Linked DNA regions of Homo sapiens: region 2 is linked to region 1. Evidence: fine-mapped expression QTL. A gene starts in region 1. The other region holds a variant in brackets. All regions are shown on one strand. Distances are from middle to middle.

Region 1 (8,129 bases):
CTCCCAAGCAGCTAGGATTATAGGCGTGCACCACCATGCCCAGCTAATTTTCGTATTGTTTGTAGAGATGGGGTTTAGCCACGTTGCCCAAGCTGGTCTCAAACTCCTGGCCTTGAGTGATCTGCCCACCTTGGCCTCCCACAGTGCTGGGATTACATGTGTGAGCCACCACGTCCGGCTTAAGATCGCATTTCTTATCAGAGGCTCGAGAGCTAAACCTTGTGCCTGCATCTCTTGTCCCCTTTGGTCTCACCTGCTCCAGGCAGCTCCGACAGGCTTCCTGGATCAGCTGCTCTGCGTCCACCTCCTCCCCAACATTGTCTCGCACGTTCAGTGCTGCCTTCTGGAAGAACTAGGGGAGCACAACAGAGGACAAGGTCAGAGTCCTGTTAATGTGCATCAACCTGAAGGAAACTGAATATAAAATAAGTCTTTATCCTAGCTTCATACAGAAGGGAAAAGTGATTATGAGCAGGGCTTTGGGATCAGCCAGATTTAGATTCACATTTCAGGCTTGACCTCCTCCCTTTATTCCCCCTCTTACGGATATAATCGTGGGGGTGCCCAACAGATTGAGGTGTAAATAGTGCAAAAAATCAGGACGGGCGCGGTGGCTCACACCTGTAATCCCAGCACTTTGCGAGGCCGAGGTGGGCGGATCACGAGGTCAGGAGATCGAGACCATCCTGGCTAACACGGTGAAACCCCGTCTCTACTAAAAATACAAAAAATTAGCTGGGCGTGGTGGCGGATGCCTGTAATCCCAGCTACTTGGGAGGCTGGGGCAGAGAACTGCTTGAACCCAGGAGGCGGAGGTTGCAGTGAGCCAAGACCGTGCCACTGCACTCCAGCCTGGCGACAGAGTGAGACTCTGTCTCAAAAAAAAAAAAAAAAATTTTTTTTTTTTTTTAGTAGAGATGAGGTCCCACTGTGTTGCCCAGGCTGTTCTCAAACTCCTGGCCTCAAGTGATCCTGCCTCGGCCTCCCAAAGTGCTGGGGTTGCAGGTGTGAGCCACTGTGCATGGCCCCAATAATGGTTATATTATTAAACAACTAATAAGAATACTTATTGGACACTTGTTATGTCTGGAGCACAGTGCTCAGCACAGTACATTTAAGTCACTTCATCCTTATAAGAGGTCAGCAAAAAAAACCACGTGCGTGACAAGGGCAGATTTTAAAAAAAAAAGGTATCTGAATTACCCTCAAGGAGGGAATAAAATTCTTGGGGGATTAAAAATTTGAAAACTGACCAGGTGCCCTGGCTCACACCTATAATCCCAGCACTTTGGGAGGCCAAGGCAGGCAAATCATTTGAGGTCAGGAGTTCGAGACCAGCCTGGCCAACAGTGAAACCCCGTCTCTACTAAAAATACAAAAATTAGCCCTGCAAGGTGGTGGGCACCTGTAATCCCAGCCACTAGGGAGGCTGAGGCATGAGAATCGCTGGAACCTGGGAAGTGGAGGTTGCGGTGAATCGATATTGTGCCACTGCACTCCAGCCTGGGTGACAGAGTGAGAATCTGTCTCAAAAACACAAAACAAAACAAAACAAAAACAACAAGAAAGGAAAACTTTAGATATCTGTATGTAGGAAAGAGACAGACTGGTGATGCAGGCAAGGACTGGGCTCCTCATGAGTCTTTCTCCTGTTATTTTTTATCCTGTGTCCCTCTCACCTTCATGTACTTGTTGAAGACAGTCTGGATCTCCTCGTTGATGCTGGGCTGCAGGACAGCTCGGAGGAGATCCATGGAGATGGCAGGATCTGTGAAACTGCATTCAGGAGGGAGACAGGGTGAGGGGGCATGTCCCAAACATATTCTTTCCCAGCCTCCCCAGTTAATTATGGACATAGAATTCCTTAACAATACTAGACAGCTTTTATTGAAAACTAGCTACATGCTCAGATTTTGTGCAAATCACAGAGGCATGACTTTATTTCTTTCTCATAATAACTCTATGAAGTGCATATTATTTTCAAAGTTTTTTTTTTTGAGACGGAGTCTCACTCTGTTGCCCAGGCTGGAGTGCAGTGGCGTGGTTTTGGCTCACTGCAACCTCTGCCTCCTGGGTTCAAGCAATTCTCCTGCCTCAGCCTCCTTAGTAGCTGGGATTACAGGTGTGCACCACCACGCCCGGCTAATTTTTGTATTTTTAGTAGAGACCGGGTTTCTCCATTTTGGTCAGGCTGGTCTCGAACTCCCAACCTCAGGTGATCTGCCCGCCTCAGACTCCCAAAGTGCTGGGATTACAGGCGTGAGCCACCGCGCCCGGCCAATTTTTTGTTATTTTTAGTAGAGACGGGGTTTCTCCATGTTGGTCAGGCTGTTCTGGAAGTCCCGACCTCAGGTGATCCACCCACCTCAGCCTCCCAAAGTGCTGGGATTACAGGCGTGAGCCACCGCGCCCGGCCCAAAGTGTTTTTATGAAATATAATACTTATACAGAAAAGTCTATACACTTTAATGAGTAATTATAGTGAACATCCATTTCACCACTATCAGCATCCCAAAGGCCCACCTTGTGCTCTCTCCCTTCCCTGACATGCATACTATTAATCCCTCTTTATAGTTGAGAAAACGGGCTCATCAGAGTCTGTTGATGAGAACACAGTTGTCTGACTCCAGAGCCTGTTCTCTTAAACTCCATGCTAACTGACCTCTTTAGAGCCCTCAACCACAGAGCCAGTGAATGTGAGGGATCTTAGGTATTGTTTATTCCACAACCCATCTCCTGTGCCCTTCCCCATTTTGTACGTGAGTTCAGAGAAGGAAGTGACTTGACTAGTTCAAGATCACACAGAGTTACAGAATCGGAGTCTCCTCTTCCTCAGTCCTGTGCTCTTTCTACCGGCTGTAGATCTCCATAGCCTTGTGCACTGGGGATCCCAAATCTGCCATGCAAGCCAGTGGCTGGGATATAAGCCCCATGCAGGGCCAGCCTTACCTTGTTGTCATCTGTGAGCGGCGGCCCCTCCGCTGCACCTGCCGGTGCTTTATCATTATGTTCCAAGGGTTCTGTGGGGACCAACGGAACAAATGTCACTGCGGCCTGTGACACTGGGGTGGGGTGGAGGTGGAGGGTGGGTATGAAGTTAAACCTGGACATCCCTGCTTCTCAGATCCGTCACCATCTCTCCCGCCTTGGGGTGGGACGATAGTTGTAAGGCCTCCTCCACAAAAGAGGAACTGAGGAAGTTTCCTGCCTTAAAAGTCCCGACCCTGCCTTCTGGCACGGCAGGAGGAAGGGAAGCAGTATTTACCGAGGGTCAACTCTGTGTCAGGTGATGTCCGGGGCGTTGTACCCGCCTTTATCTTCCCATCCCACAACAAGTTTTATGAGACAGGTACTAATCATTTCCATTTTATAGAAGAGGATCCTGGGACTCAGGGGGTTGACAGAGATGGCCCACGTCACCTAGCTAGGAGGGCGGCACCAGAATTTAAATCCAGGTCGTCGGGCTGCGAAAACGCCAACCCCCTCTGCAGCTCCAGCCTCCGCGTTCTCTCGCCCGCGGGCCAGGGTCCCAGGAGCCCCGAGGCCGTGCCCGGCCTGAGCCCAGACCTCACCGGGGGCGCCCTCACCGTAAGAACCAGCTGCCCCGCTGCGCCCGCATCCCCCAGCTCCAAGCCGCCCCTCTCGGCCCCGCTAGGTCCCCGCGGCTGCTCGGCGTCGCCAGTGGCTCCCATGGCGCCCCCGGCCCCCACAACTCCGCTGGACTCTGTCACCGGCCGGAAAGTGGCGCCGTGACGTCACTGGAGCGCGCTGCTCGTCCGCCCGGAAGCGCGACGCTGGAGCTGCGGGGTTACCATGGGAACCGAACCGCCGCGCCTCGCCCAGGACAGTTACACTTAGAGGCCTTGTAGGTGGAGGTCGTTGGGGCTTCCTCTCGGGAGGGCTGCGCCTCGATTGTGCAGTGTGGGTGTTCAGTGGCGGTTCAGTCAAGGGATGTTTCCCGCTGGGCCAAGGCCTGGGGATGACTGCGGGGTAGGAGGAAGGGACCAGTTTTCTGTAGGCTGGGGTTGGGGAGCAGAGGGAAGCGTTTGGTACAGCGGCGCCTGCAGTTCAGTTTTTGAAAACTAGATTTTAATATGCTCGGCCAGGGGCGGTGGCTCACGCCTGTAATCCCAGCACTTTGGGAGGCCGAGGCGGGAGGATCACTTGCCATCAGGAGTTCGAGACCAGCCTGGCCAACATGGCGAAACCCCGTCTCTACTAAAAATATAAAAATTAGCCGGGCGTGGTGGTGGGCACCTGTAATCCCAGCTACTCGGGAGGCTGAGGCAGGAGAGTCTCTTGAACCCAGGAGGCGGAGGTTGCAGTGAGCCGAGATCACGCCACTGCACTCCAGCCTGGGCGACAGAGGGAGACTGTCTCAAAAAAAAAAAAAAAAAAAGCACATTAGGCACATGTTAGGTCATCATCAAATGTTAATTATGCCGAGATCGCGCCACTGCATTCCAGCCTGGGGGACAGAGGGAGACTCTGTCTCAAAAAAAAAAAAAAAAAAAAAAAAAAAAGCATATTAGGCACATATGAGGTCATCATCAAATGTTAATTATCTCCATGAGCCAACATCAGCCTTCTAACCATAAGGGCGACTTCCTGGCTCCAAACTTTTTGATCCTATTAAGGAGGTTTTACCTTGTACCTGCCCATAGGACTAAGCAGTGCCAGTGGACACCATTAGGTATCACAGCTAACCAAAGGCATGACCAGGACAGATAAAGAAAAAAAGAAATGGAGAAAAAAGAAATAAAGGAGGTATATGTGGGCAGACTATTTGAGTCATACATAGCAACTTCTCTTGGGTTCTGCCAGCTAGACTTCATACAGTCCAAGAATGGCCTGTGTGGGTTAGAGGGACAAAGATGTAGGTGTTTGGTGCTTTTCATTAGTTCTTAACAAACTCAACTACTGCTTTTCTGTAGGTTTTTGATAGTTTCTTTTCTCTCTTTTTTTTTTTTTTGAGACAGAGTCTCACTCTGTTACCCAAGCTGGAGTGCAGTGGCATGATCTCCACTCACTGCAACCTCTGCCTCCTGGGTTCAAGCTATTCTCCTGCCTCAGCCTCCCACGTAGCTGGGATTACAGGCATGCACCAGCATGCCCAGCTGATTTTTGTATTTTTAGTAGAGACAGGGTTTCGCCATGTTGGCCAGGCTGGTCTCAAACTCCTGACCTCAGGTGATCTGCCCGCCTTGGCCTATTTGATAGTTTCTGAGTGGTCTGTTCCATTCTGTATTTTCTTGGTTGCTAGGATGAACAGGAGCCACAATTTTATTATGCTTGGTTATGTTATTAGCTTTGGCCATTAAGTAGTGTCGTGAATCCCTCCCTCTGTTATTTGGGCTAAAGCCATGTCCTTCCAATGCCCTTTAGGGCTCTCTTTGATTCTTTTTCCAATGGCCACCCCTCCATTTTTCCAGCCACCCACTAGGTTTCTCATCATCCAGGAATATTGTGTATATTGCTTACAGAATTTGATCCTCCCATCACAGGTCCCCTTTGGTAGTGCCAGGAATTTTCCCACACTCCAGCAGCCAATCCCTCTTCTTCTTGTCAGGAGAAGATATTCTTGGGGAGTATTGTGAAAGGGAAGGTTTTGGGACTGGGTTTGGGGCCATCCCTAGTCCTGCTCATACCTCAGCTGATACTCTGGGCAAGGTGTACACCTCTAGCCTGAACTGAGCTCTTGTCCCAACTCTCAGCATCATCATGATGTTAAGCTGCCTCTTTCTTCTGAAGGCACTTCTTGCTCTTGGGTCTCTGGAATCCTGGATAACTGCAGGAGAACATGGTGAGCTATCATTTGGGATCCCTGGCCAACAGTAACAGAAAGTGACTAGAGGAGAGGAGAACTCATCCCCTGCCTTCTCCCAGAGCAAGGTTGCTTGTAAGTGGAGATGATCATCTCTATAGGACAGGACTGGATGAATAGATTCTCAGGATGGCCTGGGTCATTCTTCCTGGCTTTCTTTACCCTCTCTGGACAAGGAGATAGGACTTCCAGTTGGGCTTACTAGAGGTTCTAGCTTTTCCCTAGAACTCATTAAATGAGAACAGGATCATCCCACCCTTTCTCTCTCGTTATCTGCAGGATGGCTGCTCCTTTAGCAGTGGTGGATATATGTTAGTATTTGTGTATGAGGAGGGGAAGGTGGTTGCAGAATTTTTTTTTTTTTTTTGAGATGGAGTCTCACTCTGTCACCCAGGCTGGAGTGCAGTGGCGTGATCTCAGCTCACTGCAAACTCCACCTCCCAGGTTCACGCCATTCTCCTGCCTCAGCCTCCCGAGTAGCTGGGACTACAGGTGCCCGCCGCCACGCCCAGCTAATTTTTTGTATTTTTAGTAGAGATGGGGTTTCACTGTGTTAGCCAGGATGATCTCGATCTCCTGACCTCATGATCCGCCCGCCTCGGCCTCCCAAAGTGCTGGGATTACAGGCATGAGCTATCGTGCCCAGCCAGAATTTTTTTTTTTTTTTAAGAGACAGGGTCTCATTCTGTCACCCAGGCTAGAGTGCAGTGGTGCAGAAATATTTTGGATAGAGATGCCTGGAGGGGCTGAAGGTCCATTCCCCATTTCTGAGGCCTGGCTAGTTACCCCAAACTCAAATAGTATCTTTTGCAGCAAAAGAGGGAGAATGCCCTCCCCATAAGAACCCATGCAAAGAGCTGTGCCAGGGTGATGAATTGTGTCCGGCTGAACAGAAGTGCTGCACCACAGGCTGTGGTCGGATCTGCCGAGACATTCCTAAGGGTATGTTGGCATGAGGGGCAAAATCTGGGCATACTCTCTGACATTGCCTCTGGGATAGATGGAAGTAGAGAGCTTCCCACCTTCTAGGTTGCCTCTGGAAGTCTCCCTTGCCTAGAGTACTTCTTCTTTACTCTTTTAGGGTCCCTCCTCCTTTAATTATTCAGTGCCCCCAGTTGTTTGCCTTCCATCAGGAAAGAGCGCACCATTGATTATCTATGTCTTTTACTTTGGACTCAAAGTTCCTGTGAAGGCTGGAGGGAAGAGTTGTAAAGGGAAGGCTGTGTAAGATAATGATTAAGAGAGTAGACCCTAGAGCCAAGCAGACCTTTTTAAGCCTTAAGCCTTAGCTCTTTATAAATCTTAAGCTTTTAGCCTCAGTTTCCTCATCTATAAAATGGGGATAATTGTGAGGATCAAATAAGATGTTCATGGCACAAGGTAAACGTCAGTAAATGTTACAGTAAATATTTGCTATTACTATTGTTGTTATTATTGTCTCTTTGTCTTAGCACCAGGGTTGAGAGGCTTAAATAAATCTCAGGACTTCCTTTTTCTGTTTTTCCCTTCTGCTGTGCCCGTGGGTGTTGCCAGGCACTATTTTCTCTCTCTCTCTCTCTTTTTTTTTTGAGACGGAGTTTCGCTCTTGTTGCTCAGACTAGAATGCAGTGGCGTGATCTCGGCTCACCGCAACCTCTGCCTCCCGGGTTCAAGTGATTCTCCTGCCTCAGCCTCCCAAGTAGCTGGGATTTACAGGCATGTGCCACCACCCCCGACTAATTTTGTATTTTTAGTAGAGATGGGGTTTCTCCATGTTGGCCAGGCTGTTCTCGAACTCCCTACCTCAGGTGATCCACCCGCCTTGGCCTCCCAAAGTGCTGGGATTACAGGTGTGAGCCATGGCGCTCGGCCTATTTTCTCTTTTCTTTGCTGTCTCCCTTTTTGCTACAGGGAGGAAAAGAGATTGCCCTAGGGTTATTCGGAAACAATCCTGTTTGAAAAGGTGCATCACTGATGAGACATGTCCAGGTGTAAAGAAATGCTGCACGCTTGGCTGCAACAAGAGCTGTGTAGTCCCAATCTCTAAACAGAAGCTGGGTAAGAAACGCTGTCCCCACACCTCATGGTCTGTTTGGTCTGCTTGTTTATTTCTCAAATATGCACATATCAGCTTGTTGGTTTTACTTTGCTGCTATATTCTAAGACCTTAAAAAAAAAAGATATACAAAGGGTGCACAAGCCATAATCATTTGTGGTATGTAGCCTGGGCAGGCAGAGGGAGGGTGCCAGAAGGGCAGCCTCAACTTACCCTCATTTGCAGACTGCTTTGAAAACGGTTGAGTAGCCAGGTGTGGTGGCTCATGCC
Region 2 (8,129 bases), 34 kb after region 1:
GGCACTTGAAGCAAGATCCTGATGGAGGAAGTCTTGTAGGAATGCTTGTCTGCTGCGGCTTAGGCATTTTGAAGTTCTTGTGTGCTGGAGGTGTGGCTGGGTTTTGTCTCACAGCAGAGGCAAGTAATTGTAACTCAGAAATGCGTTGCCGTCTGGCTGCTTCCTCTCTATTACTGTACACCTTGAAGGCGAGGTTGATTAATTCCTGTTGTGGGGTTTGAGGGCCCGATTCTAATTTTCGAAGTTTTTTCCTAATGTCAGGAGTGGATTGGGTGATAAAATGCATATTAAGAATAAGGCGGCCTTCTGGCCCCTCTGGGTCTAGGGCGGTAAAGTGTGTAAGGGTTGCTGCTAAGCGGGCCACGACCTGGGCTGGGTTTTCATCTTTACCTCGGGTAGTTTCTTTAAGCTTGTCATAATTAACAGCTTTGTAAGCTGCCTTTTTAAGCCCTTCAACTAGGCAGGAAACCATGTAATCTCGCCTAGCTGTACCTGGGGAATCTGCCTTATAGTTCCATTGGGGGTCCTCTCGGGGAACTGCTCTACTGCCTTCCTGGAGGTCAGGTTCACGAAGCCGGCGGTTATCAGTGTGAAATTGGGCTAGAGAAAAAACTCTTTCCTGTTCATCTGGGGAGAGGGTAGAAGTCAGGATGACATTTAAGTCACTTCAGGTTAAATTGTAGGACAGAGTTAGATATTGGAATTCCTGTATATGTTTAGTGGGGTCTGATGAGAAAGAGCCTAAATGCTGACTGATCTGAGAGAGGTCTGATAGAGAAAAAGGTACATGTACCCTGACTATGCCTTCAGCTCCAGCCACCTCTCTAAGAGGAAATTGCTGGGCAGGTGGGGAAGAATTAGTTGCAGAACTAAACTGTAAGCTGGACCGGGTGTGAGGAGGGGAGGTGGTAGAAGGATTATAGTGTGGAGGAGCGGAGGCTGAGGAAGAATTGGGACTTAGCTTGGCCTGGCGACGAGCAGCCTGGGGAGGAGGAGAAAGGTCAGATGGGTCTGTAGAAAAAAGGAAGACTGGAAAGACTCAGCAACGCTTGGGGTTGGGACTGAGGGGACAGGCGGGAGGGAAAGAAGGAGGATTTGGGAGGAATCGTATTGGGAACAGAGACTAGGGAGGGAACGAAGTGTGAAAAATGCCCATTTTTCCACAAAAATTATTTAGGTCTTGTAGGATGGAGAAATCGAAAGTGCTGTTTTCTGGCCATTTAGAGCCATTGTCAAGTTTGTATTGGGGTCAAGTGGTGTTGCAGAAGAAAATAAGGTGCTTAGATTTTAGGTCAGGTGAAAGTTAAAGAGGTTTTAAGTTCTTAAGAACACAGGAAGGGAGAAGGAGGAGGAGGAATGGAGGGTGGAATGTTGCCCATAGTGAAGGAGGCAAGCCCAGAGAAAAGAGAGAGTAGAGACACGGAGGGAAGGGGTTCGGGGGTTCTTACCCTCCAGAAAAGTGGGAAAGGGGTTGGGGCACAGAGATACGAGGTCAGGGTGTGGAAATAAGGGATCGGGGCACAGAGATATAAGAGGTTGGGGTGTGGAAATAAGGGATCGGGTGCAGAGATATAAGAGGTTGGGGTACGGAAATAAGGGATCGGGGAGCAGAGATATAAGGGGTTGGGGCGTGGAAATAAGGGATTGGGGCACAGAGATATAAGGGGTTGGGGCGTGGAAATAAGGGATCGGGGTGCAGAGATATAAGGGGTTGGGGTACTTGCCCCTCCCCTAGAAAAGCAGGACTTGCCGCTAAGGGTGAAGGAGAAGGGGTTGGGGGTTTCTTGCCCCCCAGAAAGGCAAAGAAGAGGTAGAGACACAGAGAGAATGGGTTGGGGTACTTACCCTTCCCCAGAAAAGCGGGACTTGCCACTAAGGGTGAAGGACCAAGGCAGGTGTCCCTGCGTGGTCTGACACCTCTGAAACCTGGGTGAATAATCAGAGAGGCATCCCTGCAATGATTAAACACCAAGCGAAGGCTGCCTTCCCTAGTCTGCGACCGGCGCCGGAGTTTTGGGTCCACAGATAAAACGTGTCTCCTTTGTCTCTACCAGAAAATGAAAGGAATTGAAATTAAGAGAAGGGAGAGATTGAAGTGTGGCACCAAGATTGAAAGGAGAAAGAGGTTGAGGGATAGTGAGGGAGGTTGGAGGAGAGAGTAAAAAGAGGCTGCTTACCCAATTTAAAATTGGTGAGATGTTTCTTGGGCTGGTCGGTCTGAGGACCTGAGGTCATAGGTGGATCTTTCTCACGGAGCAAAGAGCAGGAGGACAGGGGATTGATCTCCCAAGGGAGGTCCCCCAATCCGAGTCACGGCACCAAATTTCATGCGCGTCCGTGTGAAGAGACCACCAAACAGGCTTTGTGTGAGCAACGTGGCTGTTTATTTCACCTGGGTGCAGGCGGGCTGAGTCTGAAAAGAGAGTCAGTGAAGGGAGATAAGGGTGGGGCCGTTTTATGGGATTTGGGTAGATAAAGGAAAATTACAGTCAAAGGGGAGTTGTTCTCTGGAGGGCAGAGTTGGGGGGTGGGTCACAAGGTGCTCAGTAGGGGAGCTTTTTGAGACAGGATGAGCCAGGAAAAGGAATTTCACAAGACAATGTCATCAGTTAAGGCAGGAACAGGCCATTTTCACTTCTTTTGTGGTGGAATGTCATCAGTTAAGGCAGGAACCGGCCATCTGGATGTGTATGTGCAGGTCACAGGGGATATGATGGCTTAGCTTGGGCTCAGAGGTCTGACACTTCTTATGTTACATTTTCCATTTTTTCATCCAATCAGTTTTAAAAGATCACAAAAGTAATGCTTGCTTGTTTTAAAAAAAATCAAAATATTTTTTCACCAACCTAATGCTTAAAAAAAAATGCAGGCTGGGTACGGTGGCTCATGTCTGTAATCCCAGCACTTTGGGAGGCTGAGGCGGGTGGATCACCTGAGGTCAGGAGTTTGAGACTAGCCTGGCCAACATGGTGAAACCCCGTCTCTACTAAAAATACAAAAATTGGCCGGGTGCGGTGGCTCAAGCCTGTAATCCCAGCACTTTGGGAGGCTGAGGTGGGTGGATCACGAGGTCAGGAGATTGAGACTATCCTGGCTAACAAGGTGAAACCCTGTCTCTACAAAAATTACAAAAAAAAAATTAGCCAGGTGTGGTGGTGGGTGCCTGTAGTCTTAGCTACTCAGGAGGCTGAGGCAGGAGAGTGGCGTGAAGCCGGGAGGCGGAGCTTGCAGTGAGCCGAGATTGCGCCACTGCACTCCAGCCTGGGTGACAGAGCCAGACTCTGTCTCAAAAACAAACAAACAAAAAAACCCCAAAAAACCCCCACAAAAATTAGCTGGGCTTGGTGGTGGGCGCCTGTAATTCCAGCTACTCTGGAGGCTGAGGCAGGAGAATTGCTTGAACCTGGGAGGCAGAGGTTGCGGTGAGCCGAGATCACGCTACTGCACTCCAGCCTGGGCAACAGAGTGAGACTCTGACTCAAAAAAAACAAAAAACAAAGACATCTGTAGAGTAACTTGGTATCTCAACCATGCCTGGCTGTGGGCTGCCAGGCAGGGCCTGAGAGTTCTCACCTAGGCTGGGCCCTGGTGCTAATGGCTGCCTGTTTCACAAGGGACTGCTTCATCTAAGCCTTTCTTTTTCAGGAAGAGGACACCCACCCTGGTACCTGGTCCCTGGCGAGAGGTGAGTGGTGGAGTGGGGTGCCCTGAGGGTTTCCTTCTTTAATTATAGAAAGGAAGCATGTAGCAGGGCAATTGTGTCCCAGGGCTGGAACCGGGGGTCAGAGGGCCCCTGCAAGACCTTGAGGACTGCAGTGCCAGATCGTATCTCAGCTACATGGAAGCCTGGGCTCTGGTGCCCATGAGCTCCAAGGCCTCCTGTGTCCTGCAGTGCCTCCTGGACTGGGGGGCGCCAAGGAGCCCAGAAATGCTTCTGCAATGGCCAGGGGTCTGTCTGTAAGAATGTCATCTTAAGTTCTTCCTCTTTTGAAACCTCTTCTCTCACAGCCCACCTGGCAGAGGCCTAGGGTCTTTGTTCATCTTCCATTTTTTTTTCTTGTAAACTTTCTGCTTACCTGTCTCTGGCTCCTATCCTTTTAATTTCTGGCACCCAGCCTGATCTCCCTAAGTAGTCTGGGCCTCACTTTTGTGTTTCAGACCACTAGGATGGTTCTGGCTATACCCAAAAGTGTTAAAATGATTTGTGGCACTGTCAAGACCACTGGGACAAATCCCCTTTGCCCAAGAATGTCTCTTTATTTGAGATATATGTATATATGTGTGTGTATATATATATCTGTATGTATATACACATATATATGCATGTATATATGCATATATATACAGATATATATATACATGTATATATGCATATATATACAGATATATATACATACATATGCATATATATACAGATATATATACATACATATGCATATATATACACATATATATATGCATACTTATATGTATATATATGCGTATATATACGCATATATATATATATGTTTTTGACACAGAGTCTTGCTCTGTTGCCCAGACTGGAGTGCAGTGGCCCAGTCTCGTCTCACTGCAAACTCTGCCCTCTGCCTCCTGGGTTCAAATGATTCTCCTGCCTCAGCCTCCCAAGTAGCAGGGATTACAGACATGCACCACCACATCTGGCTAATTTTTGTATTTTTAGTACAGACAGGGTTTCGCCATGTTGGCCAGGCTGGTCTCAAACTCCTGGCCTCAAGTGATCCACCTGCCTTGGCCTTGTGCTGGGACTACAGGCGAGAACTACTGTGCCAGCCAGATTTTTTTTTTTTTTTTTTTTT[G/TG]GTATTGAGTTGTTTGAGTTTCTTATATATTTTTAATTCCTGTTGTTGCCTTTTTTTTGTAGAGACAGAGTCTTGCTATGATGCCCGGACTGGTCTCAAATTCTTGGCCTCAAGTGATCTTGCTGCCTCTGTCTCCCAAAGTGCTGGGATTATAGGTGTGAGCCACTGTGCATAGCCTAGTCCCTTGTTGATGAGGTAGTTTGGAAATATTTTCTTCCATCCTGTAGCTTGTCTTTTCTTTTTTGAGACAGGGTCTCACGCTGTCGCCCATGCTGGAATGCAGTGCTGCAATCATGGCTCACTGAAACCTCCACTTCCTGGGTTCAAGTGATTCTTGTGCCTCAGCCTCCCGAGTAGCTGGGATTACAGGTGTGCACCACCACATCTGGCTGATTTTTATATTTTTAGTGGAGACAGGGTTTCACCATGTTGCCCAGATTGGTCTCAAACTCTCCACCTCAGGTTCAGGTGATCTGCCTGCCTTGGCCTCCAAAGTGTGGGGATTATAGGGGATTAAAGGCAACTGGCCTTTGCCATGCAGAAATTTTTTTTTTTTTTTTTTTGAGATGAAGTCTTGCTTTTTTCCCCCAGTCTGGAGTGCAATGTCATGATCTCGGCTCACTGCAACCTCCACCTCCCAGGTTCAAGCGACTGTCCTGCCTCAGCCTCCCAAGTAGCTGGGATTATAGTTGTGTACCACCACACCCAGCTAATTTTTTGTATTTTAAGTAGAGATGGGGTTTCACCATGTTGGCCAGGCTGGTCTTGAACTCCTGACCTCAGGTGATCCACCTGCCTCAGCCTCCCAAAGTGCTGAGATTACAGGCGTGACCCACCGCGCCTGGCTGTAGAAACTTTTTAATGATGTAATCCCATTTGTTTGTTTTTTCTTCTGTTGCTTTTGCTTTTGAGGTCTTACCCAGAAAATCTTTCCCAAGACCAATGTCCTGACTAATGTTTTCTTCTAGTTTTGTAGTTTCAGGCATTAGATTTCAGTATTTAATCAATTTTTATTTGATTTTTGCATATGGTAAAAGATTGCAATCTAGTTTCATTCTTCTGCATATAGATATCCCGCTTTCTCGGCACCAATTATTAACAAGACTGTCCTTTCCCCAATATATGTTCTTGGCACCTTTGTCAAAAATGAGTTGTCTCAAAAAAATTAGCCGGGCATAGCGGCGTGCGCCTGTAGTCCCAGCTGCTGAGGAGGCTGAGGCAGGAAAATGGCGTGAACCCGGGAGGCAGAGCTTGCAGTGAGCTGAGTTCACGCCACTGCACTCCAGCCAGGGTGACCGAGCAAGACTCCGTCTCACAAAAAAAAAAAAAAAAAAAAAAAAAGAGTTGTCTATATGTGCATGCATTGATTTCTGGGTTTTCTATTCTGTTCCATTGGTCTATGTGTCTGTTTTTGTGCCAATACCATGCTGTTTTGGTTACTATAGCTTTGTTTTGGTTACTATAGCTTTGTTGTATAATTTGAATTCAGGTAGTGTGATACCTCCAGCTTTGTTGTTTTTGCCCAGGATTGCTTTAGCTATTCGGGGTCTTTTGTCGTTCCATACAAATTTTAGAATTTTTTTTTCCTGTTTATGTGAAGAATGCCATTGATATTTTAATAGAGATTGTATTGAATCTGAAGGTCACTTTGGATATTATGGGCATTTTAACAATATTAATTCTTCTGACCTATGAGCATGGGATATCTTTCCATTTTTTGGTGTACTCTTCAGTTTCTTTCATTAGTATTTTATAGTTTTCCTTGTGGAGATCTTCTAATTAATTTTGTCCTAGGTTTTTTTTTTTTGTAGCTATTGTAAAGGAGATTGCTTTATTGGTTTCTTTTTCAGATTGATTATTGTTAGCATATAGAAACACTACTGATTTTTGTATGTAGATTTTGTATCCTGCAATTAAACTAAATTTGTTGATTAGTTCTAAGAATTTTTTGGTGGGGTAGGTTTTTCTAAAAATAAGATCATGTCATGTGTTTCCAAGGCTAATTTGACTTCTTCCTTTCCAATTTGGATGCCCTTTATTTCTTTCTCTTGCCTAATTGCTCTGGCTAGGATTTCTAGTACTATGTTGAATAACAGTGGTGAAAGTGGCATCATTATCTTGTTTCAGACCTTAGTGGAAAGGGCTTTCCGTTTTTCCCCATTCCGTATGGTATTAGCTATGTGCTTGTCACTTATGGCCTTTATTGCATTGAGGTATGTTCTTTCTATATCCAATTTCTTGAGAATTTTATCATGAAGGGATGTTGAATTTTATCAAATGCTCTTTCACAATCTACTGAAATGATCATATGGCTCTTTTGATTCTGTCGATGGGGTGTATTACGCTTATTGATTTGTATATGTTGAACTATCCTTGCATCTGGGGATGAATCCCATTTGATCATGGTGAATGATCTTTTTTTTGAGACAGAGTCTCGCCCTGTTGCCCAGGCTGGAGTGTAGTGGCACGATCTTGGCTCATTGCAGCCTCCACCTCCTGGGTTCAAGCGATCCTTATGCCTTGGCCTCCTGAGTAGCTAGGATTACAGGCATGCGCCACCTCCCTGGCTAATTTTTGTATTTTTAGTACAGACAGGGTTTCGCCATGTTGGCCAGGCTGGTCTTGAACTCCTCGCCTCAAGTCATCCACCTGCCTTGGTCTCTTAGTCTCCCAAAGTGCTGGGATTACAGGCGTGAGCCACCATGCCTGGCCACAGGGTACTTCTTGCCTTGTAGAATGAGTTTGGAAGTATTCCCTCTTCAATTTTTTAGAATAATTTGAGTAGAATTTGTATTAATTCTTCTTCAAATATTTGGTAGAATTCAGCAGTAAAACCATCAGGTCCTATGCTTTTCTTTAAAGAGATACGTTTAATTTCTGCTTTCATCTCATTACTCATAGTTGGCCTGTTTAAGTTTTCTGTTTCTTTATGATTCAATTTTGGTAAGTTGTATGTGTCAAATAATTTATCTTTTTAGTTTTCCAATTTGTTGGTGTGTAGTTTTCCATAATAGCCTCTAATGATCCAGGCCGGATGCGGTGGCTCACGCCTGTAATCCTAGCACTTTGGAAGCCTGAGGCGAGTGGATCACCTGAGGTCGGGAGTTCAAGACCAGCCTGACCAACATGGAGAAACCCTGTCTCTACTAAAAATATAAAATTAGCTGGGTGTGGTGGCACATGCCTGTAATCCCAGCTACTCAGGAGGCTAAGGCAGGAGAATCGCTTGAACCCGGGAGGTGGAGGTTGCAGTGAGCTGAGATCGTGCCATTGCACTCCAGCCTGGGCAACAAGAGCAAAACTCCATCT

Alleles and levels. Alleles are on the strand shown, and positions count from the first base shown. SD is a standard deviation of normalised expression in the study named.
With allele G in place of TG in region 2, the expression in subcutaneous fat of the gene that starts at base 3,743 in region 1 is lower (moderate effect, 0.53 SD a copy in TwinsUK).

What was found. PIP is the estimated chance that this variant, and not a neighbour inherited with it, causes the effect. A credible set is the group of variants that fine-mapping cannot tell apart.
Region 2: its variant is the best candidate, but not a certain one, in a credible set for the expression of DNTTIP1 in subcutaneous fat (TwinsUK, PIP 0.52).

Annotation. Positions count from the first base shown.
Region 1 is chr20:45,787,568-45,795,696 of GRCh38, reverse strand. DNTTIP1 (deoxynucleotidyltransferase terminal interacting protein 1) reads right to left here and starts at 3,743. Exons shown (of 13, transcript NM_052951.3): 1 at 3,588-3,743; 2 at 2,950-3,020; 3 at 1,680-1,776; 4 at 254-352. The coding sequence starts at 3,692. WFDC3 (WAP four-disulfide core domain 3) reads left to right here and starts at 3,814. Exons shown (of 7, transcript NM_080614.2): 1 at 3,814-3,865; 2 at 5,715-5,803; 3 at 6,638-6,766; 4 at 7,715-7,861. The coding sequence starts at 5,722. RefSeq lists silencers at 3,041-3,180, 3,391-3,660.
Region 2 is chr20:45,753,948-45,762,076 of GRCh38, reverse strand. LOC124904915 (a long non-coding RNA gene) reads right to left here and starts at 16. Exons shown (of 2, transcript XR_007067610.1): 1 at 1-16. The variant G/TG (reference allele first, on the strand shown) is at 4,821.